Linked DNA regions of Homo sapiens: all the other regions are linked to region 1. Evidence: fine-mapped expression QTL. A gene starts in region 1. Each other region holds a variant in brackets. All regions are shown on one strand. Distances are between the middles of the regions.

Region 1 (5,099 bases):
ACCCAAATGTCTAAAGCCTGCTTACTCAGCAGTCCACTAAGGCATATGTACAGGTTCAAAAGCAACAATATGGCATGTGACAGGGTCACCTGGCAGGTTAACCAGGCACCGAAAGTATGAGCCACCCATATGTGTGGATTCGTCCTAACGCTGTCAGCCCACCGGGTCCTGAGTCCTCTCTCTGGTGACAAGTGGGAAGGGTGTGAGAACTGGAGACTGTCCACATGTGGCTTCATCTAAAAGGTATGACCAGAGGCATTACTGACATCCCAGGGGATTCCTGACCCTAGCTGACAGGTGCCCCAGTTAAAACACACCCCAAAGCTAGGGCTGCTGGAACAGAAAACAGCTCCCCTCAAAGGTCTGCAGCAGCCCCTCTGCAGGCACACCGCCTCAGGCTACATATCCTCAAATTCAGGGGATCTTGGAATAACTCGTGCATTGCACAATCCCACTAACAAGTGCGGAAAATTAAGTTACTTTAAAATTACAAACTTGGGCCAGGCGCGGTGGCTTCCCAGCACTTCGGGAGGCCGAACTGGGCGGATCACTTGAGGTCCGGAGTTCGAGACCAGCCTTGACCAACATGAAGAAACCCCGTCTCTACTAAAAATACGAAATTAGCCAGGCGTGGTGGCGCACGCCTGTGATCCCAGCTTTTCGGGAGGCTGAGGCAGGAGAATCGCTTGAACCTGGGAGGCAGAGGTTGCGGTGAGCCGAGATCACGCCATTGCACTCCAACCTGGGCAACAAGAGCGAAACTCCGTCTCAGGAAAAAAAAAAAAATTACAAACTTGAAGATTTAAGCCAACCTTTCATCACACTTGTGTTCACGTGCATATTTTTCCATTGTAAATATGACACAACCCAAAACCTTCTAATCCCATTGTTTTTGAAATCTACCTTGAGACTGTTACAGTCTAAAGGACACCTCATGAGTACAACTACCTCATCTGCCTCTCATCTTGCCAGCATCTTAATCCTGTGTGACTTTCTCTACATTCACCTAAACTTAACCCTTGCTCATTTGCACTCAGTCACCGCTCCAAGGCCAAGGGGAACCGTTCAGAGAGAACCCCCAGCGGGAGGGCAAGCCCCACTCCTAGCCGGGCCACTCCCCCGCTCCACACGGCATTTGGGTCTTTCTGACATTTTCCCCCACGAATGCAAGACACCGGGGCAGCCTCTGAGGGGGCAGCCAGACAGCCCCGGACCGGGCTGCGGAAGAAAGAGCGTGGCCTTTGTTTACTGCGGTGACCTTAGGCGTAGAGGAAGCCGACGCCCGCTTCGCGGCCCCAGCCCTACCCCCTCCCCTCCCACGGCCCGCTGCCCCCACCCCCGCCCTGCCCCTCCCCCAGGCCCGCCTCCCCACGCCCCACCCAGCCCTTCCCGAGTCCGCTCCCCACGACCCTGCCCCTACCCAGGTCGGCTCCCCAGAGACCATGCCCCACCCCGGGTCAGCTCCCCTATCCCCTCCTTCCCCAACCCTCCCCTCTCCAGACCCTGCTCCCCCGACCTGGTCCTGCCCCTCCCCCACGTCCGCTCCCCACTGCCCTCCCCACCCCTGGCCGCGCTAGCCTAGTGGCCGTTGGGTTCTGGCCACGATCCGGCGGTGCCGGGACTTGCGCGGAGACCCCGCGGGGGCCACCACTTCCTTCCGCGATCGCGCTTGGTCTTGGCAGCCGCAGGGCCCGGGTCTTCGGGCGGCGGGCGGGGGCGGCGGGGCCTCACCGAGATAGATGTCTCCGAAGGAGCCGCTGCCGATCTTCCGGCCCAGCCGGTACCTGTTCCCGACTCTCAGCTCCATGGCGGCGGCGGCCCGATTCGCTCCTGCCCTCCCGGCCGCTTCCTGGGTCTGAACTCTGGGAGGCGGCGCCGCTGCTGCCGCTACTGCGGGTCCGGCTCCCGGCTCCGCCCCCCTCACGGCCCCGCTTTCACCATCGCTTTCCTGTCGCCCCGCCGCTCCCAGCGCCTCAATACGGGGCGGATGGGACAGTCCGAGCGCCGCCGCCGCTGCTCCGGCCCCTACCGGTCCCGCTTGCCCTCTCCCCGCCGCGGATGGACTCGGATCTTCCGGGCCTAAATCCCCTTTCAGCTGCCTAAAGGAGCCGCCGCCATCGCGCTGTGACGTCACTTCCCCTAGCAACCCGGCGGGGCGGGGCCGCGGCGCTCCAGGGGCGGGGCCGGGCGGGGCGAGCGCTCCAGGCCTCCTCCCGACCCTGCGCCGTGCCCAGCCCCTCTGCCCTCCTGTTACCCCGGGACCTCGGGCCGCCAGCCCCTTCCACGTGCAGGCTCCTGCTGCTCTCGCGGGGGCTTTTCGTGTGTCCCCCGAGATGTCGAGGAAGCCAGGTGAGTTCCTCGCGACAGGCGGTGCCCTTTGCAGGAGGGGACAGGTAGCTGAGGCGTGGACAGAGTGACAGGCCAGGCTCAGGGGACACAGGTGAGACCCCCTCACTGGGCTGCCAGTTCCCGGGCTTGGGGCATCCCAGTACGTCAGCGTCTGCGGCCTTACCTCCTGACACCTAAGGCCAGAGACAGAGCAGGCCCGCGCCCTGGGAGGTCCTGATGTCCAGCCTGAAGATTGAGGACAAAGCCACCACCTTTCACAAAATGAGGCCAGACCACCTGCCTCCCTCCAGTCCCTGCGGCCTGGAGACGGAGTCAACATTCTTATCTGTGTTGGATCTGAATGTTCCTCCTTGCAAAGGAAACAAGGAGTGGACGTTCAGGCTGATGGCCAGCTTCAAAGATCGGGGCCTTTGATTCCCATCACTGGGAAGAAAGCCCTTCAGACAAGCCCCCCCAGGCTGCAGGTGCATGGGGACCTTGAAGAACCCGTCCCCATGGTCCCACGTCCATGTGTCTCGAGACCTGTCGCATCCTCGCTGAAACTCAAGAATGTGAAACAGGTGAAGGTGTGTTTTGACGCATTAGCATACCAGGGCTGTGGTGTGGGCACCGCCGTGTGAGTGAGACAGCAGCCTCAGCCCGTCCAGGTCACTGCAGAAGAGGAAAGCAGCCCCCACAGGCCCCACAGTGGTGCTCGCCTTTCTCCACCCCCCAGTCTTTCCTCTCCACCCCTCAGCTCCAAACAGCTGGAGGTCAGGTCGGGGAGACGGGCGTCCATTCCCGAAATTACATAGCAGGGCCTGGAGACAGGAGATGCCGCCGGCCAGACCACCATCAGTCACTAATGAGGGATGGGCAGTCGGAACTGCCCAGTTTCTGAGTTACAGAAGCCGGGGGTGGGGGGCTGCCAGACTAGTAAAACTGACCTTGTTGGCGGAATCGCTCACGGCTTTTCTGTTGATGAACAGAGTCCAGCTCTCCCACGGGTGGCTGTGATCCTTCTTCCTGGGGAGTCCTGCTGTCCCTGACTAGGGGCACCTGCCCACCTGTCAGCTGCTCCTCCCTCGGCTGGTCCTCCTGGGCTCTGATGGCCCCAACATTTCTAGCTCTTCTCACCCATAGTGCCCCAAGCTTCATGCAGCTGCGGCAGGTACTGTGCCCGTCTGCCTGGCTTTTGTGTGTTTGTGTCTTGACTCTATAACCCGTGCACACGGACTGGGCTGTGGTGTAGTGGGGATGGCAGGAGCCCTGGGAACATGCGGGCTGGGCAAGGTGAGGCAGGCTGATTGCTGTGGCTCCCCCACCACCAGCCCCAGCCACAACAAACTGACAAAGGAAGAGGACAGTGGTACCCTGGAGCCCTGGGGTCAGAGAGAGGAGGACAAAGCAGGTGTGTAGCCCAGGGAATGACAGCACCCCTTCCGAGAAGACAGGGAGGGTGCAGACATGGCCAGGTTCTGAGCTAGAAAACTGTCAGCAGGGGGCTGAAGCTGAGGATAGTCATTGCCAAGGAACAGCCTCCGTCACAGAGGAGACGCACAGATGCGGTGACGAGGGAGGGATGCGGGGCTGGTGACCGCTGGGAACGGATGTGTGAGGCAGAGTCTCCAGGCATGGTCTGTGGGGCGGTTTGATGATACTAGAACATCTCAGAGTAGAAGGACGTCCCGACCTGCAGACTGGAAAGCCCCCAGAGCTCCCGGCAGGACGTATGAGGGCCAGCCCACACCCAGGTCTGTCCTGATACAACTGAACGCCACAGTGTCTTAGCTCCTTTACTGTTGCTATCAAGAAACACCTGAGGCTGGGAAATTTATGAAGAATCATGAGGTAATTTGTATATTTGTCCACACTAAACCTCATGTTGAATTGTAAACCCCAAGGCTGGAGGTGGCTGGGTCATGGGGGTGGATTTCTCAGGAATGTTTAGTACCATCCCCTTGGTGCTGTCCTTGAGATAGTGAGTTCTCCTGAGATCTGGTTATTTAAAAAGTGTGGGGCACCTCTCTCTCTCGCTCACTCGCTCGCTCGCTCCTGCTCTGGCCATGTGACGTGCCCGCTCCCCCATTGCCTTTCACCATGATTGGAAGCTTCCGGAGGCCTCCCCAGAAGCTGAGCAGAGGCCAGCACCATGCCTCCTGTAAAGCCTGCAGAACCAGGAGCCAAGTAAACCTCTTTTCATTATTTATTTATTTATTTATTTATTTATTTTGACACAGGGTCTCGCTCTGTTGCCCAGGCTGGAGTGCAGTGGCGTGATCTCGGCTCACTGCAACCTCTGCCTCCTGGGCTCAGGTGATCCTCCCACCTCACCCTCCTGAGTAGCTGGGACTACAGGCACACGCCACCATACCTGGCTAATTTTTCATATTTTTTGTAGACATGGGGTCTTACTGGCCCAGACTGGTCTCAAACTTCTGAGCTCAAGTGATCCATCCACCTTGGCCTTCCAGAGTGCTGGGATCACACGCATGAGCTACCATGCCGGCCCTCTTTTCTTTTAAAATTGCCCAGTCCTAAGTATTTCTTTATAGCAAGGCAACCACAGCCTAACACAGCTCACGATGCTGAGGTCTCAAAAGTTCAAGATCGGGCGTCTGCCTCTAGTGAGGGCCTTGCTGCCGCTGCCTCCACTCATGGCAGAAGGTGAAGGGCAGCTGGAGTGTGTGCAGACCGTGTGCGAGAGGGAGCTGGAGGAGTAGGGAAGTACAGGCCTTTTTTTTTTTTTTTAAGATGGAGTCTCGCTCTGT
Region 2 (5,099 bases), 32 kb before region 1:
CTTTCCACCCCTGGAAGATGGAAATAAACCTGCGTGTGGGTGGAGTGTTAGGACCAACGGTTTCCTAGGAGTATGTGGTTTTGCTGTGTGGCCTGTGTCCTGACTCGCACGTCTGCTGATGGCCTGGCTGTTCCTACCGTGGCTCTGTCCTCGCCAGCTTTCCCTGCAGCGGCATAGCATTCGTAGCAGGGGCAGGCGCTGCATGGAGGGGGCTGCGGGGCAGGTGCCTGGAGGCCGCTGTGCCAGGGTGGCCTCTGAAATGTGCCAGGGAGCCCCTACGTGGTGGTTAGATGGGAGCTGAGGTGGAACAAGCCACTTTATTCACTGCTGTGTTTAAGAAACAGGACCCTCCTGCCTTCCCTTTTTCGCCCCTCTGCCTGGCTGGCAGTGTGCGTGGTGTGGTCAGTGCCCAGGGCTGGTCTTTGCACCCTGTCCTCCATCCAGCCCGGCCCAGCGCTTGGGCTTGTCCTGGACACCTAACACCCACCTGCCCTCGTGGCCAGCAGTGGCCTGCGTGGCTGGGAGCCCGGTCAGAGGCCGCCGGGGCCCTCAGTAGGTGCGTCGTGGGCGCTGGGGACGGCAGCGGGTGCCCTGGCGGGCCGCGTGCAGCCGGAGAGATGCCATGTCCCTGCTCCTCTGCAATGAAAAGCAAGCGAAAAGTGCACATCTCAGGTCCAGCTGTCCCCATCTGCCCCTGGCCTTGCGCCAGCTGGGCTTGAGCTCTTGCAGCCCAGGCTCCTGCCTGCAGCCTCAGGGCTGTGGAGGCCTCTAGCAGGGCTCAGGCTGGCGGGCAGTGCCAGCAGTTGCAGGGATCAAGGTCAGACTCTGCACAGCTAGGCCCATGTGTCTCGGCAGAGTCCACCAGTCCCACCCAGCAGCTGAAGGGAGAAAGACGAGGAGGCAGGGAGCAGACGAGGAGGTGGGGAGCAGGCAGCCCGGGCCTCAGAGGACACATGGCCTTCCCCCGCTGGCACCCCCACATCAGGGCCACCAGGGGACTGCTCACACCCAGGGGTTGCCGCCTCTGGACCTGGCTGTCCCTGGTTCTGCTGACCTCAGGAGTGACCTGGGCTTACAGAGGTACTGGCAGGGAGGTCATGGGCCGGGTGAGGGGTGCTCGCTCCTGGAACCCTGTTTCCAGGTATCTCGGGCCCTCACCCTCCCCTAGGCAGGAAGCAGTCTCTCTAGCTCAACTGTCACCCCTCGTCTGCCCCACTCTGGTCCCCACACCCACAGCACACAGCAGAGGCTCAACACAAAGTAGCCAGGCAGTGCTGCTCCCGGACAGACATGCCTGAGGGACCGTGCTCAGTGATTCAGGAGTGGTCCAGATGTGGGAAGGCAGCCACGCTTGGTTGGGGGCACAGGACGTGTGGGGGCTGGGGTCCCTGTGCCGCAGGGTGGGCGTGAGTGGGCGCTGAGTTCTACTACCTCCTCCCTCAGCTGGTGCCTTTAAAGGAGGGAAGCCATGGGGCAGTGGGTCTGCTCTGACCCGACAGGCAGGAGTGAAGGGGAAGGGAAGGGAAGCCCGGAGCCCACTGGGAAGAAGCTGGGGGCAGAGGTCTGGTGCGTGGGCTGCAGAGCTATCCCCCAACCCCGGCGACAGATTCTAGTGCCAAAAGTGGTTCAGGTCTACCGTGTTGTGAAGATCCCCTGACCAGAGACACGTCCGTCCAGAACCCACTGCTACTTGGGGTGGGGGTGGGGGGCAGAGGGCGCACAGACTTCTTCACATGATCCCAGATCAGAGGGAGAAGGGAGGTGTCCGCCCGGCCTGGGCCTTCCCAGAGAACAGCCCTGGAACAGATGTGTGCAAGGCCTGTGCCGGGGGAGGTGGCGGGGGAGGCACAGGGGACCCAGAAAGGGCTTGGTGGCCCCGGACGCTGCCGTCCCTCAGCCTTCCGAGGGGTCTATGGTGAAGCTCCCGGGAGGCGCTGCCCAGTACCTGGAGGGCCTGCTCTTTTCAGCGTCTAAACCATGCCTGAGGACACAGACCCAGCCAGACTCAGGTTCAGAGAACAAGCCCTCTAACTCTGTCCGCTCATGCCCCCGCAGATGAGATGGAACAGGCCTTGAGGACATGCAGCCCCTGCTCCCTCTCAGGGCAGGGAACCCCAGGAGGGCAGCTG[C/T]AGGCCTGGGAAGCTCAGGCAGGAACTGGAACTTGGGTCTTGCCGTTTTCCGGTTGGGGCCGGTGAGCGGGGCAGGGGCTGAGCCTCACCCACGGCCACAGTGAGGCCCCACACGGTGTCTCAGTCTGGGGCAGCAAGAGGGAACCACGTGAGGCGGGCTGGAGACAGGGAAGGCCCGGAAGCCAGCTCAGATGCCCAGGGCACAGCCAGAATGGCTGAGAGGAAGGGCCTGGGAGGAGGCAAAGTCTGGGCAGGAGGGGCTGGCAGAGCTCCAGGCCATGGGCATCCCCACGGTTGGGGAAGGAGTGCATCACAGGCAGAGTTGGCGGGACAGCCCCGGAACGTGGGGCTCAGAAAGCTACACCGTTCTTAGAGCAACCTCCAGGCAAGTGACCCGAAGTCCCTGTGCTTTTTCACTACAAACAAAAATATCCTCCTCTTAGGCAGCGTGACCCTGGCCAAGGGGCCAAGGGAGTGGCCTGGAGTGGAGAGTACTGGGTGGAGGTGGGGGTGGGAGGGGAGCTGGGAGGGGAGGCGGCCTAGCCTGGCTGAGCTCACCCACACACGAGCACAGGTTAGGAGTTGGTGCAGACCTCCCTGCTCTGGCAGCCTGACAGCCCCCGCAGGCCTTGGATAGGGGCCACTGCTGTGTGCTCTGGGGGGGGGGGGAAGAGGAACCCTATCTCCTTGTGCCTGTGCAGGGCCATCGGGCAGCTCCTGGGCTTCAACAGCTCAAGCGACAGGGGGATCCCTGAGCACCACGGCCCTATGGCAGGGGGAAGGGACATGCGCTCACCCCAGGCGGCTGGAGTGCGGCTGCCGGTGCCGCCCGAGAAGGCAGGGACTCTCCAGAACCGTCACACAGAAAGTGCGTGGACTTCTGTGTGCACAACAGAGCCCAAGGGGGCAGCACGGCGAGGAGCAGTCGCCACCCCTCCCTGCCCGGCAGCAGGCCCAGGGGGCAGCTCTCCTGCTCTGCCAGCTCCCAGACACCCACAGGCTGAGAAAGAACAAACAGCCATCTCAAAGAAGTATTTTCACACAGTTCACCTCAACACAGTGAAAACTCTCAAGCTGATGAAATAAAGACCACATGGAAAGGGGAGGGAAGAAAGGTAGAAGTCATTATGAATTTATTATTTACACGATTGTTAAAGTACACAAATACAGTGGCGATACAAACGCACAGCTCGGAGACTGGCCGTCAGTGCACAGCTGACACGACGTCCTACCTACGTCTCCTGCACGGGGCGACGGGGACTAGATACTGGGCAAGGACTGTCACAAGCACTCCGAAGACGCGACCCGGCGAGGCTCGGGCTGGAACCCGGGCGCAGAGCTGCCTCGCACAAACGTTCTGGGCACTACATCGGGACCACAGATATTTACAAAGCAAGCTTGCGCCACTTCAGGCCACAGCGCGACGTCTCTCCGGGTGGGGGACGTCTACCTTCAAGAAGGGGTCCAGCAACAAAGAAAATCTCTTAACTCGGCTCTGACCCACCCCAACCTCCCTCTGTACTTCAACACACAGCTCCCACCCGCTCAAGGCCCCGTACTCCAAAACGCTTACACAGTAACCAGCCTAGGATTGAGAAAGCATCCATGGGCTCAGGCAGACGGCCAGCCAGCTGGTGGGGGGGTGAACAACTGTGTTCTGGGACGCCAGCCAGTTATGGCATCCGGGGAACTCTGGGGAGGAGAAGGGAGAACCAAGGTGCACACCTTCGAAGCCCTAGAGTCCAAAGGGAACATCGTCCATCGTGATGGGGTCCAGCCGAAGTGCCCACGAACACAGACTGCCCTGCGCATTGGGGTTGGGAGCACATGGCCACTGGCTACCGCCCAAGTGCTGCGGAGTGAGAGGCGAGAAGGCATCCTGGGAACCTCAGGGCACAGCAGCATGGAGCCTGGGGCAGCACCAGCTCACGGAGGCCACCTGCCTTCTGGTGGGACTCGGCCCCACGCACGCTGCTTCACTTCTGACCAACAGACACGCGCCCAACAGAAGGTCACAGCGCAGACTCTACTTTCTGGCCGTGAAGGTTCTGGGTCCGGTTGGGAGAGTCACCTGCTCCTTGGCACCTCAGGGTGGGTCCTTCTGGCCTGCCGGCTTTTCTGAGCTAGTCTTGGCACGTGGCAAGGACAGCCCCGCTCCTGGTTTTAAGCACAGGCATTCATACAGACGGAGTGCCAATCCGCACAGGAGCATTGAGTGCTGAGAAAATGGACTGAGTGCAAAGGCAGCAAGGCAACAAACACTACAGTAACCACCTCTCGGTTCACAGTCCTCTCCCAAGGGACCAGAAACGCATCTTCCACCTTGAATCCTGGGACTCCCAATTGTCCTGCTAGGGTCTCAAAGCCTCTGCTTCCAAGCTCTCAGCTGCCTGCCCACCTCCTGGGGAAGAAGCGCGCAGTGCTTTGCCTGGTAACACCCACTGCACCCCTGCCCCGCGGCAGCCTGCGGTCCCTAACTGCTCTCCGAGGGCCTCAAGAGTTCCTGACAGCAGGCATGTCAATTACGGGAGGAGGGAGGGTGAGACGCCAAAATCAGGTTGAAGAGGTCCCACCACACACGGGCACACACACACACCACGGACTTTTGATGAGAAATCTCCTCTCCAAAGCGGACAATAAAACACTGCAAAACAAACACAGCACACACCCTTGAGATCCACCTGCACCTTCTCCCTGCCCGACTCCACCTCATACACTAACTCCAAGCCAGCCTGTCTCAGAATTCCTTAGTCAACATTTTTTTTGTAAGACTGCAAAAACAGACAAGAAACAATAAAAAGACAGATTTTCTTTACACAGATTTAAGCCAATAATTTTTAGCAAAATGATACAAAACTGTCTTAACCAAGTAGAAGATTGGTAGTTACAGTGGAATCGTCAGGGAGTACAGGGCGGCCACCACTGGAGGGAGCTGAGGCCCTGGAAAAGGAGTCTGATTCTCTGCAATTC
Region 3 (5,099 bases), 38 kb after region 1:
GTTGGGGAGCGTTTGCTCTGACAAGTATTGTCTTGTCCCCATTTTACGAATAAGAAAACCAAGCCCGGAGAGGCTCAGTCCTGGAAATAGACGGTGGGGGAAACAGGACTCAGGCAGAGTGCATGCTCTTTGTCACGAGAATTCGACCGGTGTGCACATTGACCCGACACGCCCAGGACACAGCATGCTCAGTCAGGGGCCCTCTACACCTGAGCCTGGGTGGGGGTGGGGACACACTATGAAGGACCCTCCCTGTCCTCCAGGTCCTTTCAGTCTGGCTGTGGACAGAGAAGTGGAGAGACGATTATGGGCATTGAGATGAGCGGTGGAGGCTGGATGGAATCAGGAGGAGGGGAGGAGAATCTTGGGGAGCACGGGCCTGAGCACAAAGGGGATTAAGGAAGAGGAGGACCTCGGGGAGCACGGTTCTGAGCATGGAGGAGATGAGGAGGGGAGGAGGACCTTGCGGAGCACGGCCCCAAGCATGAAGGGGATTAAGGGAGAGGAAGATCTCAGGGAGCACAGCCCTGAGCACGGAGAGGATTAAGGGAGAGGAGAAGGACCTTGGGGAGCACAGCCTGTCCCTGCATGGCCTCTGGTCCCTGGGGTGGGGTCAGGCTGCCGGGGATGCCTCAGATGACAGGAGCTCTGCCGATGGGCTCGTGGTGCTCTCTGCTTATCAGGGACAAGAGGACAGGGGACGTGGAGACAGCACTCTGGTGGGAGCTGAGGGTCAGGGTGTGGGCAGGTTGGCCAGCACGGCCTGGAAAGCACAGTCCTGCCGTTGAGGAGAGCACAAACCCACCTCCCTCATTTACAGATGGCAAAGGAAGGCCCAGAAGGGCAGTGACTTGTCCAAGGCCACCGGGCTGTCTCTCGTATTGGCGGAGGTCCCCTGTGTGGAGCGCCTGGGTTCTTGGAACCTCGAGCCCCAGCCCCTTATCCCTGCGTCCCCTTAGCTTTTCCCTGGTCACTGTCTGGGTCCCACCCGTCAGTGCTGGACGCACGGGAACCAGCATGAGCCGGGCGGGCACGCAGCTGCTGGTGAACAGGTCCCAGGGGCTCCCCACATGCGGGTACCTTAGTGACTTATCCATGTTTACAGAAGAGTTTGGTGGTCTCCTGGTGCCGAGGGCCCGAGCATCAGGTTCAGCGAGAGCAGCAGCGGCCGTGGACACCGCAGAGGCCACCATGAGGGCCTGGGGACAGTGTGACACTGCTGACTGCAGCCCTGGGAACCCGTGAGAACTGGGGGAGCGTGTCCTGGAATGCCAAGCCCGTCGTGGCTGGCGACTCCCTGCCCCGGCTAACACGCCATTGTCAAATACAAGTCCTGAGAAAGTACGAGAAAGAAGGAACTAAACCCACAGCTCATCACCCAGAGAGAACCGTTGTTAGCACCTCGTAAGTCTATTCCATTATTTCAGTCATGCAGAAATAAACATACATACAGGTGTAGCCATGCTCAGCATAAAGATGTTTTGGTCAGCCGGGAGCAGTGGCTCACGCCTGGGGTCCCAGCACTTTGGGAGGCCGAGGCGGGTGGATCACAAGGTCAGCAGATCGAGACCATCCCAGCTAACACGGTGAAACCCCGTCTCTACTAAAAATACAAAAAAAAAAAAAAAGACGTTTTGGTCAACGACGGGCGGCACATGCCACGATGGTCCCATACGATGACAGCAGCTCCACCAGGAAGCCTGGGTGTGCCCTGGGCTCTAAGTCTAGGTCACGCAAGCACACTCGGTGACAGTCACACAATGATGACACTGCCTAGCGATGCGTTTCTCAGAATGCATCCCTGTAAGCAACACGTCCACCATCTATATTGTAACAAATGTGCCTCATACGTCTATTCTGCAGCCGTCTGTGTGGCTTCACGGGGTCGTGTGAAGGTCCTAGGGTGAAGTCACAGATTTTTCCATGGTGCCCTTTTATTTTTTAAGTATTATTATTATTATTATTTTGATATGTAGTCTCGCCTTGTCGCCCAGGTTGGAGTGCAGTGGCGTGATCTCAGCTCACTACAACCTCCGCCTCCCGGATTCAAGCAATTCTCCTGCCTCAGCCACCTGAGTAACTGGGATTACAGGCACCCGCCACCATGCCTGGCTAGTGTTTGTATTTTTACTGGAGACGGGGTTTCACCATGATGCCAGGCTGGTCTCGAACTCCTGACCTTAAGTGGT[T/C]CACCCGCCTCAGCCTCCCAAAGTGCTGGGATGACAGGCGTGAGCCACCGCGCCCGGCCCATGGTGCCCTTTTAACACACGCTGCATGTGCCATAATCACTGTAACAAAATTATCCTGCTTGGAGACTTACATCCTTCCTTAGTTGTTATATATATTTTTAAGATAGGGTCTCAGCTGGGTACGGTGGCTCACATCTGTAATCCCAGCAGCACTTTGGGAGGCCAAGGCGGGCAGATTGCTTGAGCCCAGGAGTTTGAGACCAGCCTGAGCAACATGGCAAAACCCTGTCTCTATTTAAAAATTAAAATAAATATTAAAACATAAAAAATAAAAATACTCACGAGGTCAGGAGATCGAGACCATCCTGGTCAACATGGTGAAACCCCGTCTCTACTAAACATACAAAAAATTAGCCGGGCGTGGTGGCGGGCGCCTGTAGTCCCAGCTACCCAGGAGGCTGGGGCAGGATAATCGCTTGAACCAGGGAGTGGGAGGTTGCAGCGAGCTGAGATCGCACCACTGCACTCCAGCCTGGTGACTCCACCTCAAAAAAAAAAATATATATATATATATATATAAAAGATAAAGATAAAGATGGGGTCTTGCTCTGCCACCCAGGCTGGAGTGCAGTGACACAGTCACAGCTCACTGCAGCCTCAAACTCCTGGGCTCAAGTGATCCTCACACCTTGGCCTCCCAAGTAGCTGGACCACAGGTGCACACCACGATACCCGGCTTCAGTTGTTAATTTTTTAATTGAAAGTTACATTGCAATGAATATCACTATACCTCTAAACTTGTTTCTGTGCCTAAAGATAATTTCCCAAAGAAACTTTTATAGAAGTGGAATTTCCAGGTAAAAGGGGCATTATATTTTATTGTTTTTGTTTTTGTTTTTGTTTTGAGACGGAGTCTCACTCTGTCTCCAGGCTGGTGTGTAGTGGCGCGATCTCGGCTCACTGCAACCTCCGCCTCCTGGGTTCAAGCACTTCTCCTGCCTCAGCCTCCCGAGTAGCTGGGACTACAGGCACCCGCCACCACAGCCGGCTAATTTTTTTTTTTTTTTGTATTTTAGTAGAGACGGGGTTTCACCATGTTGCCCAGGCTGGTCTCCAACTCCTGAGCTCAGGCAATCCACCCGCCTCGGCCTCCCAAAGTGCTAGGATTAGAGGTGTGAGCCACCTCACCCGGTCGCATTATATTTTAATGATATTTACATCTTTGCAAACCCAGTTGGCGAAAGGTTACCTCATTTCAACTGGTGTTGCGTCGACACCCAGCAGTGGGAATGGTTCCTGTGTCTATCGCTCATTTTTGGAATTTGCGTATTTTTAGTTGGTGTTTTCTTCCCATGGATTGATACGGCTGTGTATGAATTAAACATACTAACCTTTGATTTGTAATTTACTTGTCAAATATTTCACCCTGATTTGTAGACGTTTGTTGTTTATTTTTGTTTGTAGTGTTTTTATAGAGTTTAATAGTTCCCACTGTGCAGTTGATTGTATTAGTTTTTTGTCTCTGTGACCTCGATGGATGATTTGATGGTGACTGCGGTCAGGGGCTCCGGAGCCTCTGGGTCTGCAGCTGTCTTCTCAGCCAGGCACTCTCTCGTACTGACGGGGGTCCTCCGTGTGCAGGGCCGAGGAAACCACCGTGGCCAAAGTGGACCACCAGCTGAGCGTGGCTGGGATGCTAGCAGCCCCCAACCCTGCCGGCCTGGGATGACGGCGGCCTGGGATGACGGCAGCCTGGGGAGAGAGGGCACTCTGATTTCTCCTCCTGACGGTGGGCCTGGATGGGCTGGAGAGGACTTGGGCCTCGGCCCAGAAGCTACTCCAGGTGTCACAGAGACCACATTCAAGGTTGGAGGCCGCCCCAGGCTGCCCATGTGAAGCTAGGGGTGCTGACCAGAGGCCGGCTCCTGGACGTGAGTCCTGGACACCAGGACAGTGGCCTAGAGCCTGCACAGAGGCAGCTGGATGAGGCTGTGGGGCGCGTCCTGCACAAGGAGGACCCCGGGTTAACGCGCCAGTGCGGCAGGAGGAAGGGCTTGAGGTGTGGGTGTGGGGTGAGTGAGGGGCAGGTGTGAGGGGTGGGTGAGGAGCCTGCACATAAGGCCCCGCCTTTGCTCCCCACCTGTGTCGCAGGAGGCAATGAAGTGCAGTGTGTGGCGCCCTAGCGGCTCCCCAGGCAGTGGCTGAGGGCCAGTGCCTCTGTTTCCCCCGGGAATGGGCGAATGGTGGCTCCTGTCCCCACGTGCAGCATGGGAGCTGCGCTGGCTGGGGAAGGTCTGGAGAGTCCAGCTGGGTCTCCCCCGGGGCCTCTGAGAACGAGGAGGAGGCACCTTGTAAGACGGGGCAGGGAGGGGAAGCGCTCAGGCTGCTGAGTGAGGCAGCCTTGTGCTCAGCTTGCTGGTCCCGGTGTGCCCTGGGGTCGGCCTCGGAGGCCTCGGGAGGCGGTGTCGCTGGAGTGGGGGTCGGGGGCATGGGGGGCCATCCTGAGGCTCCTGAAGGGCCCCTGGGTCTGGCCTCCACCTGGACAGGTGGATGTGCTTCTTCTCAAGGGTGGGAGGCCCCCAGGGCTCCTTTCAGGGCTGGGGTGAGGAAGTGCTCCCTTCCCCACCTTCAAGGCCACAGCTGCAGAGCCCCAGGCGGAGGCTTGGGGAGGGTCCGAAGTGTCAGCCATCTCCCTCCCTGGCTCCTGCTGGCTGAGGAATAAATGCAGAAGTCAGAAAAGGAAGCACAGAAGCCTTTATTTCTGGTACGGCTGGGTGGGGGACTGGTCTCCTCCCGTCCTCTGCCGGGCTGCCTGGGGGTTGGGGGCCTGCTGGTGGGTGGGCCGGCACTGACAGGAGAGGGCCGCGTGCCCAGGCCCATCCCACAGAAAAGCCCTCCTTGGCCATGGTC
Region 4 (5,099 bases), 24 kb after region 1:
GTGCCTGCACTGAGTAAAAGCAGACAGTGGCCGGGCGCGGTGGCTCACGCCTGTAATCCCAGCACTTTGGGAGGCTGAGGCGGGCGGATCATGAGGTCAGGAGTTCGAGACCATCCTGGCTAACACGGTGAAAGCCCATCTCTACCTAAAATACAAAAGAATTAGCTGGGCGTGGTGGCGGGCACCTGTAGTCCCAGCTACTCGGGAGGCTGAGCCAGGAGAATGGCGTGAACCCGGAAGGCGGAGCTTGCAGTGAGCCGAGATTGTGCCACTGCACTCCAGCCTGGGTGACAGAGCGAGACTCCATCTCAAAAAAAAAAAAAAAAAGCAAGCAGCTCCAGCTTCTCCAGGCTGTTCTCTGGCCACTAGAGCCAGGCAGCCCCCTAGCTGGTCTTACACTGCATACCTGTGTCTGAGTACTCATTTCACCCGTCGGCCAGGATCTGCGGGACAGACCCGGCATTCTTCGTTATCCATTCATTCGTTGACGGACACTTAGGCGAGTTCCGTACCTTGATTGCAGTGACTAATGCTGCCCTAATGGCATTTCATTGGAAATGAACTATTACAGGAGGGTTTTTGAAGTGGCTTATGATCCAGAAAAGGAATCTTCCAATACCTCTGTGCCCCAAAACCTTGGGTAAAATACCAACAGTGCAGTTGGTCTAAAAGGCACCACTTAAATTGCGTTGCAGATGACGTTGCTAAGGATGGCTTTCTGGTCTCCTGGTTCTGGGCAGCTCCCTGCACTGCTGGTTTCAGTCATGTTGCAAGGAGAGTATTAGCAACTCAGTAGTGATGAGGTTTAGTGGACATTTTATTTAACGTTCTGTCAAATAGGCCAAATGAAATGTTACATATGAAAAGAGCCTATATTCTGATTTCTGCCTGGGGATGTAAACATTAGCTTGCATGATGCCTGGAAGCCCCGGAACCTGAGCTCCCAACCACCTGCCAGCTGCTGGCTGCCCCTCCCTCCCTCCTCTCCACCCCCCTCAGCCTCCTCTTCCTCCTCCCATCCTTCCTTCCCTTCCCGCCTTCCCCCAGCGCCCCATGAAGCTAGTTTTAGAATGGCTTTTTGGAGCAGTTATGTTATAAGGATTGGCAGCTCATGAGTTTAATATTCTTATGGGTCTTCCAAAGTGCAAAGAGAACACAAAGTTACTTTTGCTTTTGTAATAGAGTAAAACGCATCCTATCCTGACCTAAGATGCACAAATCAACCCATCTTGTCAGGCAGATAAACTTCTCATAAACCTGTAAAACATATGACTTATGTATCCCAGTGGTCTTATCTTTCCTATCATGAGATGTCTGCTAGTCCATCATCCTGGAATTATCCATGGAATTATCACCCATCCATGGCTCCCAGCTATGCCACAGTGACTGCAATCCTAAGATTGGGCATCCGGAAGGATGGCCCAACACCGTGCCACCCTGCAGCTTTGCCGCAAGCTGCCCTGGGTCCTGCATCCTCTTCGAGGTGGAATGAGAACACAGCCGAGAGCTCAGGATCTTCCAACTGCTGCCCACAGTGGCAAAAAGAAACCTGGTGGGAGAAGATGAGTCAGACGGAGCCAGGAGCCCGCGGCCGGTGACGCCAGCGGTGGGGGAACACAATGTCCTGTGGGTGATCGGTGAGCGAGCGGACGGTGGATTTCTCCTGCAGTCGGTGGCAGGAAGGATGTCATCACGCGCTATTTTGTGACCAGCCCCTGGACCACAACTCACGTGAGCAGAAGGGCTTTCTTCTTTGCTTAAGATGTCTGTGCTTGCAAACTTACTGGCCACAGGTACAAGGAGGTTTTCTTTGCTTATGTTCATATTAAACATGTTAATAAAGGTTTTTCTTATTGTCCTTGTTTTTACATTTATAAATTACTCATAAGCTGACGAAACAGAAAACAGAGACTCATCTCCGGTTCCCGGTACAGTGAGGTGAGAGCTGCTGTGCTGGGTGCGGGAAGCGCCTGGCCCCAGGTTCCTCCTGGACGGAGGCCAGAAGGGCTGAGCAAGAGCCAGCGAGGCTGGGGAGGAGGAGGA[G/A]GCGCTGGAACAGGAACGGCCGGCCGGGAGGGGCGAGGCTGGGGGACAGTCACGCAGGGCTGAGGCGGGCGTGTGGTGCGGGAGCGTGTGTGTGCAGGAAGCTTGTGTGCGTGCGTGTGGGGAGCGGGTCTGGTGAGGGCGCACTTGGGCCTGAGCCCCTTCCGGCCCCTCGTGTTTGCTGGAGGCTGCGTGTGCTGTGTCCCCACCCCAGATGCTTGCCCTGAGGGGCAGGTTTCCATCCAACACCCCGATTGTCTCCTTCAGTAAACCCCCGGCACCGTCTACCCGGAAGTTGTGGGCTGGGAGGGATGACATGCCCTGGGGACTGTGAGCAGTGGAACCCACGTCATTGCAAGGAAATGATCACACAAACACCAGCTCGGCAGAGTGGAACCTTTGCCAAACCTCAGAGCTGCAGCGAGCGGCTGGGCAACCTTCCTGAGGACGGCGCCCCCTCGCCCAGCTCCAAGCTCCTCCCTGTCCCCACAGGATATCCCTGGACCTGGCGGGTCACTCTAGCCAGAGCAGCCTTCCACAGTCCTCCAGGGTCAGAGCTACAGTTGAGGACCCTGTAGGTGGTAGAGGTGCCCGGGGCCGGGCTCTGGGGCTGGCAGAGGCAATGTCAGCGCCTGCCACCTGCGATGTGGCCAGGGAACTTGGGGCTGAGCAAGGGCACAGAGGGGAGAGTGTGGCATGAGGGAGAGGCGGGACCCCGCAGAGGCTCCCACACCTTCCAAGGCAGCAGAGGAGAAGGGGAGGCTGCCAACAGCCAGACCAGGGCTCCAGGGGGGCGGCAGGGGGCCCAGGGAGCTCCGGGAAATGGGACAGCCACTGTCCACCTGCAGAACGCTGGCTTAAGCCTTGCAGACGGGCCCAGTGGGCAGGGTCGTGATTTTCACTCCCGAAGGGCCTGGGGTGACAAGCCGGAGGTCTGGGAGATGGGACTGGAGACCGTGTTCAGAAGGAGGAGCTCTCCACTCTGTTGGCAAAAGCCCTGGAGCTCCAGGCATCCACAGTGACCGAATGTTGGTAAAGTCCCAGAGGACGGGACCCAGGGCATGCCCCTCACTGGACGGTGGCCTCGGGCCCTGCAGGGAGTTGAATGTGGGGTCATGAAGATGTCAGAATTGCGTCTGAAGATGTCAGAATTGCATCTGAGGAGGCAGGTGGGCACACGTGATGCAGGGACACGCCATGCACCAGGGTGGGTTCAGAGCAGCAGAAGCTCTAGGGGGCACCTACAGGTTTCTATAAAATGGGGGATTTAAGGGGCCTTGGCCTTCTGCGACTGTGGGGCTGGCTGAGGAGCATCTGGGAAGCCACGTGGGAGCTGGAGGTCACAGGGCAGGCCGGCGGGAGGGCAGCGGGGCAGGGATTTGGGCCCCATCTCCAACACTGAGCCTGGGCCGGGCACATAAAGTCCCCACAATTGCTGTGGAAAGAACCAAGTGAATGCCTAACTTCCTGCCAGCCTTCCAGGAGTAACTCAGTAAAACAAAACCAACCAACCAACAAACCCAGAAGAGGCCCGAGGTCCATGGTAAAAATTCAAGAGGTGGAAGGGGCTGGACTATGGGACCAAGGTCAGGTCTTTCTCCTTCGAGGGACCAATGGGTGGCCAGGCTCTGAGGCTGCGAGGTCCCCGACACGGTGAGGGGCACGCCTGAGTCCCGGCCTCTGCATCTCCTCAGGCACCTCCCACTTTTCTGGTGGGTTGCTATTTTCCTTTTCTTTTCTTTTCTTTTCTTTTTTTTTTTTTGAGGCGGAGTCTCACTCTGCCACACAGGCTGGAGTGCAGTGGTGCGATCTCAGCTCGCTGCAACCTCTGCCTCCTGGGTTCAAGCAATTCTCCTTGCCTCAGCCTCCTGAGTAGCTGGGATTACAGGCACTTGCCACCACGCCCAGTGAATTTTTGTATTTTTAGTAGAGACGGGGTTTCGCCATGTTGGCCAGGCTGGTCTTGAACCTCGGCCTCCCACAGTGCTGGGGTTACAGGCTGAGTCCTGCGCTGGCCAGGTTGCTATTCTCTTCTTGTGTTGTGTGCATTCCTCTTCTATTCTGTGAACAAAACCTGGTGCAGGAGACCGTCTGTGTTCCCAAGCTGTCGCCAATACTGGACTACGGATTTTTGAAGCTTACAATTTCATGGGTGCAAATTGCACTTTGCATTTCTGTAACAGTGAGTGCAGTTGGGCATTTTCACATGTATCTAAGCTGTTATCTTGTTTGAGACCGGACCGTGCATTCTTCTCTTCCTTACTGGCTTCGGGACCTCTCTGTGTGCTGAGAAGATGGGCTGCTTGCCCACTGTCCCCTGAAGTTCCACACACCGCTGACTTTGGGGTGTGAGCCCTGCTGCTCCCAACAAACCCCAGCTCTCAGGCTGGCTCTTAAAGTCCCATACTCTGGGCCGGGTACGGTGGCTCACACCTGTAATCCCACTTTGGGAGGCCGAGGCAGGCGGACCACGAGGTCAGATCAAGACCATCCTGGCCGACGTGGTGAAACCCTGTCTCTACTAAAAATACAAAATGTAGCTGGGTGTGGTGGCGCGTGCCTGTAATCCCAGCTACTCGGAAGGCTGAGGCAGGAGACTCGCTTGAACCAGGGAGTCAGAGGTTTCAGTGAGCTGAGATCATGCCATTGCAGTCCAGCCTGGCGACAGAGCGAGACTCCATCTCAAAAAAAAAACAAATCCCATACTCTGGGCTTCCTAACCCTGGACTCTCCCCAAAGCATGCAGAACGTGTGGGATGTACATTTCTCTGTGAGAGGGCGACAGCCCTGGGGGGACCTTCCCATTGGTCCATGACTGCCCAGCCGACTGGGAATTCACCTTGAGGTGCCCTGGCGGGGAGGGGGGCTCCATCTCTTGTCAAAAGTCTCTGCTACCTCTGGGCCTCAGTTTCCCCACCTGTTAGCCCAACTCCCTTCCAGGCCAGGAAGCGCTGGCAGGCGGTCTCCCACCCACGCCCCGTCCCGCCACCAGAGGGCAGGCAGTCCTTCTCGGCTGGGGCCAGCCCGGCGCAGCTGGCATTTCTCCTGCAGGATGCCAT
Region 5 (5,099 bases), 24 kb before region 1:
TACAAAAAGGTCTGTTTCTAGTGAAATTATTAGTGAATTAGAAACGTGCAGTAAAACCCCAATCATTAAAAGACGGCAAGTGGTCAAGAGTGCTCCCCACTCCGGCATGTTCCTGGCTAGCCAGCTACACCCAGCCCCGCTCACGGCAGCAGGCCTGGCTCCATCCTGTGATCCCAACAAACACCTCCCCACAAGCCCAGAGCCAGGCTCCAGGGCATTTCTGAACTGAGTTCCTGCTCATCCGGAAGACCCGTGGGGGATCTGGGCACCCCCCAGGATGCCTGCTGGTGAAACAGCCCTGCCCCACTAACCCTGCCCCTGTTGGCGAACAACCCAGAAAACTATTTGAAGAAATATAATGGATCCATATGGAGAAAGCTGTTCTAGTTCAAAGAGCACGTTAGCAAACGCAAAAGACAACAAAAGCCAGAGCGAGGAGAGGAGAGACCGCTGCAGGATGCTGAAGAGGCGGTGGCCGTGGCTAGGCCTGGGCTGCGCAACAGGGTACTTCTCGTCCAAGGGAAGACAGGTGAGGCCGTCAAAAGAAGGAAAGCCTCGTTGCAGGGCATGCCACCAGGGAGGGTCTCACAAGAAGCCCGTGGAGGTCCCTACGGGCCTCCATCCCTGGCCAGTGGCAAGAATGAGGAAGAATGAGGAAGGCTCCCTCGGGCTGGGGGCACCCACAATGGGGCGCAAGCAGGCGAGCGGTGTCAGCTGCCTGGGGACGGCTGCGGGCAGCGGGGCACTCAAACAGCAGGAGAAAGCCCCCACGGTTTGCTGGCCTCAGGGACCTGAGACCTGAGACTGGCCACCTGCAACCAGGAGACAAGCCCCATGACGGCCCAGCATGTCTCCCAGGCCCTCCCGAGAAGCCTCATCTGCAACCAAGACGCCACACCCTGGCGAGATTAAAAACTCTCAAAAATGGGGGGAAGAAAGGAAAGAAGAAGCCCTGGAGAAACCACAGCCCGCTCTTGACTCGGACGGGGTAGCCCGAGGCCCAGCGCCCGCCCGGGAGCTCTGCACCTACCTGTGAGGTGGACATGCGAGAGGTATCTTGTCGGCCTGTGAGGTCGGACGAGGAGATGTTGACGGGGGCCCCGCGGTGCAGCCGCATACTCACTTTCCGCTCTCTCTCCATGCCGGAGACGGGCCGGGGGGAGGTGTTAGCTGAGGACAGGGAGAGAAACGGAGTGGGCCGCCCCCGTCTGCTGCCTCTCACTCGGGGCTTTCTATGAGAGGCTGTGGCCAGAGAGGACCCTGGGCTGCCTGGACAGTCAGGACCTGGCTGTGGCCGATGGCCACCAACACTCAGATCCGGCCGGAGGGACACAAAGGGACATGGGAGCGAGGTCAAGGGGCTCACAGGGGAGGAACGTGAGATGCGGGAGGAATCACGCACACCAGCAGGTGCCGGCATTTCTAAAGGCGCCTGGGCAGCCTGGCTCATCCACCCTCAGGAGCGAGCATCGCCTGACACAGGGCACTTAGTGTCCACCACCAAGTACCCTGTTGTCCCCACCAACCCCAAGACACAAGAAGTCACCCCAGAGCCAGCCCCAGAGCGCTGGGAGGGGGGCACTCACCCGTGTGTGAGGTAGGGGTGAGGGGTGTGGGGGGAGCCACTTCCTGCGTCCCCCGCAGGCGGCCGGAGGCTGTGGAAGGGAGGCCGCGGGTAGCCGGGTTCCGCGAGTGTCTCAGCCGCTCCTCTCGGTCCCTGCGCTCCCGCTCGGCGTCATCGGCGGCCCGGCTGGCACCCTGAGGAGGCAGGAGGTGAGGCCGGAATGGAACCAGCTTTGGCAGAAAGCAACCCTAGGTCCTAGGCTGCCCCGGCCACGTGAGAAAATACCTACCAAAGGGCACTGGGACGAGACTGCCTGCAAAGCCCCCCACAGGCTGCACGTTTCTCCTCATGGGATGACAGCATCATCCCCACAAGGGGTCAGAGCCAGGCCTCTCAGCTCCCCCAACAATCGAAAAAACCCCACTCGCCATGGCATCTCCCTGTGGGCTCAGAACTTCCTTAAACTTCCAAATGGGCAGCAGCTACCCCCTGCTGCTCTGTGAACATGCTCACTAACACGTGCAGAAAGAGGAGAGGGACAGGAACCATCGGAGGCCAAAGACAGGCCCCAAATGGTGACAGCTGGGGAGGAAAGCGGGGTGGGGATGAGAGCGT[T/C]TGGTCGGACGAGGAGTACACTCAGGGTCCGGACCCTGCAGCCTCCAACAGCCTGTGCAGGTGTGGTGGCGTGGCCAGCAGCCGGCAGCCGGATCTGTGCTGCACTATCCAGATGCACGGGGGTGGGGAGGTCAGATTTTAAGCCGAGACAGCAACCTATGAAAAAGCAGATTCTAACTGCCAATGCTGTGCGGCAGGGGCCTGCAAACTACAGCCCCGGGGCCAAACCCAGGTGCCACTTCTTCCTGCAAGTACAGCTCATTGGACACAGCCACGTTCACCAGGCAACACACAGACCGACACACCTGCGGCTGCAGCACCGTGCGGCCAGCACCGCCCAGACTCCTCATGCTGCCATTTACGGAAAACGCTGGCCTAGCCTGCTCTGAGGGCCGGGTGACTCTAATGCCGCAGGAGGGTCGCTCTGATTCCTCCCGAGGCAGCACAGCCCCGGCAGAGGGACTGATCTGCCCTGCCGAGTGCACCCCTCCCGGCACCTGGGCCCCGAGGCTCGGGCCTGCCTCGCCTGCCATCTCTCCGGGGCCTCCAAGTACTCCCCACGCTGATGGGCACTTGGCAAGTAAGTCAAGATGAACAGAGTGCACCCCTCCCAGCATCTGGAGACCCCGCCCCTCCCTGGCCCCTGCACGACTACTGGACAAGGCTGCCGTTTTTGTACCCTCCCAAGAGGCAGTTCTGCTCCTCCATCAGACTGCTGCCTGGAAAAGCTCCAAATTCTATTTAAAACTGACAACAAAACAGTAAGTTTTTAATGAAGGAACACAACAGTTCCACAGGAGCTTCATTTCTGACAGCGGTGTCTGAAAAGTAATTCAGCTCAGACATGGACCCAGGGCTGGGCTGCCTGTTTTAGAGGCTCCACTGCATACTCACACCGCATCAAGAAAGCCACAGGGAAAATCAGCTCATGACAGGGTCAGTCAGGCTAGACGGGTAGCACCTCACCAGGCCCCAACCCCACTCATCTCGTGGGCACCACGACCATGTGGCACAGCGAATGGGAATGCGCACCCCCAGCCCCCACCCTCTGCCCCCAGGGCATGCTCTGGGCCCTAGCTCCGCTTGGTGACAGGGAGGGAAGGGGCCTCCTGCTGTCCACACCCAGGAATTCCATGGACCCCTCTGCGTTCCCTAATGGCGTCTTACTTCTTGGCACCCCTTTCTGGCAGGCAGACACCCACTCAGTCCAGGTCCTGCCCACTACACACTTGCCCTTCACAACCAGAGACACTCCCTATATGGTACAGCCCCTCAACAAGACGGCCGCCGGCCTCTCACTGACAAGCCATCCCCCGCACACCACACTCAGCGAACGTGCTGGCAGTGCGACTTACAAATTTGAGCATGTTCCAGTCGAACACGTAGTCATAGGAGAAGCCCTGGCGATGGAACAGATTCCGGAAAAGCTGCCGCAGGTACGAGTAGTCAGGCTTGTCGTCAAAACGCAAGGAACGGCAGAAATTCAGGTATGTGGCAAATTCGGCTACAAAACAAGAAACTCAAAGCTAACTCATGAAACCCAACTGCGACTCAAGGTGTCTCTGCCAACGTCGCTGTCTACCTCCTGCTGCTGCACACTCAAGGGGAGAAGGACAGATGCAAAACACCTGTCAGATTTCTAAGACCTGAAGCCTTGAGAAAGCATCGAAAAGTATTCAAGTCACGGCCGGGTGCGGCGGCTCACGCCTGTCACCCCAGCACTCTAGGAGGCTGAGGAGGGCGGATCACGAGGTCAGGAGATCAAGACCATCCTGGCTAACACAGTGAAACCCCATCTCTACTGAAAAAAAAAAAAAAAAAGTTCTAGAGCGTGGTGGCGGGCGCCTGTAGTCCCAGCTACCGGGGAGGCTGACGCAGGAGAATGGTATGAACCCGGGAGGCGGAGCTTGCAGTGAGCCGAGATCACGCCACTGCACTCTAGCCTTGGCGACAGAGTGAGACTGTGTCTTAAAAAAAAAAAAGAAGTCATAAAGCACAATTTAGTTTCATTTGAGGTGTGTATCCTGGGGCAATCCTACAAATGCAAAGGAAATCTCCCGAGCTCCTGGAGGGGGCCAGAGAGGGCAGCCACTGCAGAGAGAGGCCCCACCACTGCCTGTCCATCCCTTTCCAGCCACTTGGGGCCCTGAGGCTCGGGCCTGCCTTGCCTGCCATCTCTCCAGGGCCTCCAAGTACTCCCCACGCTGATGGGCACTTGGCAAGTAAGTCAAGATGAACAGGAGGGCAGGCTGTTACCTCCATACACAAAAGCGCCCCGCTTTCCTGCCACCACCCCTTTGGAAGGTGAGCAACTCTTCTGACAAAACCCAGACTGAGCCGTCTCGGCACACCCGACACATATGCAACCCCTGTGAGCAGCTCCGCTGAGAAGAGGCCTCCAGAGACTTACAAGGGTAGCCTTTACACAACACTTCGATGGGGGTGGACATTTTCTTCTCGCTAATCCTTTCGTATTTCTGTCTCTTGGTGGCAGCCTTCAGCCCCTGCCAGGGGAGAGAGCCCAGGTTGAAGTACATTAGCACGTAGCCCAGAGACTCCAAGTCATCTCTTCGGGATTGTTCTGAAAAGAAAAGGGAAAGGCGTGAAGAACGGCACTTGCGTGCTCACGTCAAAGCAAAAGACCCGGCTGGCCGTTCCAGTGGAGACTAGCCTCAGACACACATGCCCAGATCACTCCAGCTGGCACTTCCAGTGGAGACGAACCTCGGACACACATGCCCAGATCACTCTCACCCAGAGCTGCCCCTCATGCATACTAAGGAAATTCCCAAACACATCACAGGTGACTCAGAAATGTCCCAGCATCCGCCTGCCCCCATACACCTGGCAGTCACGAGCCAGCCTGTCTGCCGCAAAGGTCTGATGACACGCTTGCAGCCCCAGCTCCCCGAGAGGCTGG

The links. PIP is the estimated chance that this variant, and not a neighbour inherited with it, causes the effect.
Region 2: its variant is fine-mapped to the expression of CSNK1D in whole blood (TOPMed, PIP above 0.99).
Region 3: its variant is fine-mapped to the expression of CSNK1D in blood mononuclear cells (TOPMed, PIP above 0.99).
Region 4: its variant is fine-mapped to the expression of CSNK1D in whole blood (INTERVAL, PIP above 0.99).
Region 5: its variant is fine-mapped to the expression of CSNK1D in whole blood (TOPMed, PIP above 0.99).

Annotation. Positions count from the first base shown.
Region 1 is chr17:82,271,575-82,276,673 of GRCh38, forward strand. CSNK1D (casein kinase 1 delta) reads right to left here and starts at 2,126. Exons shown (of 9, transcript NM_001893.6): 1 at 1,732-2,126. The coding sequence starts at 1,807. LOC124904089 (a long non-coding RNA gene) reads left to right here and starts at 2,204. Exons shown (of 2, transcript XR_007065953.1): 1 at 2,204-3,499. RefSeq lists silencers at 1,526-1,575, 1,626-1,815, 2,056-2,265.
Region 2 is chr17:82,239,427-82,244,525 of GRCh38, forward strand. SLC16A3 (solute carrier family 16 member 3) reads left to right here. Exons shown (of 5, transcript NM_004207.4): 5 at 1-660. CSNK1D (casein kinase 1 delta) reads right to left here. Exons shown (of 9, transcript NM_001893.6): 9 at 3,241-5,099. Among named protein-coding and RNA genes, the nearest start is that of MIR6787, 5.3 kb to the left of the region's middle. RefSeq lists enhancers at 1-145, 4,437-4,516. The variant C/T (reference allele first, on the strand shown) is at 2,130.
Region 3 is chr17:82,309,945-82,315,043 of GRCh38, forward strand. It overlaps CD7 (CD7 molecule), which reads right to left. Exons shown (of 4, transcript NM_006137.7): 4 at 4,929-5,099. Among named protein-coding and RNA genes, the nearest start is that of CD7, 5.1 kb to the right of the region's middle. RefSeq lists an enhancer at 4,275-4,862. The variant T/C (reference allele first, on the strand shown) is at 2,190.
Region 4 is chr17:82,295,939-82,301,037 of GRCh38, forward strand. No RefSeq gene overlaps it. Among named protein-coding and RNA genes, the nearest start is that of LINC01970, 5.7 kb to the left of the region's middle. RefSeq lists enhancers at 1,999-2,630, 4,800-4,869, 5,070-5,099. The variant G/A (reference allele first, on the strand shown) is at 2,044.
Region 5 is chr17:82,247,845-82,252,943 of GRCh38, forward strand. CSNK1D (casein kinase 1 delta) reads right to left here. Exons shown (of 9, transcript NM_001893.6): 5 at 4,590-4,760; 6 at 3,535-3,683; 7 at 1,587-1,758; 8 at 1,031-1,170. Among named protein-coding and RNA genes, the nearest start is that of MIR6787, 14 kb to the left of the region's middle. RefSeq lists an enhancer at 4,457-5,099. The variant T/C (reference allele first, on the strand shown) is at 2,180.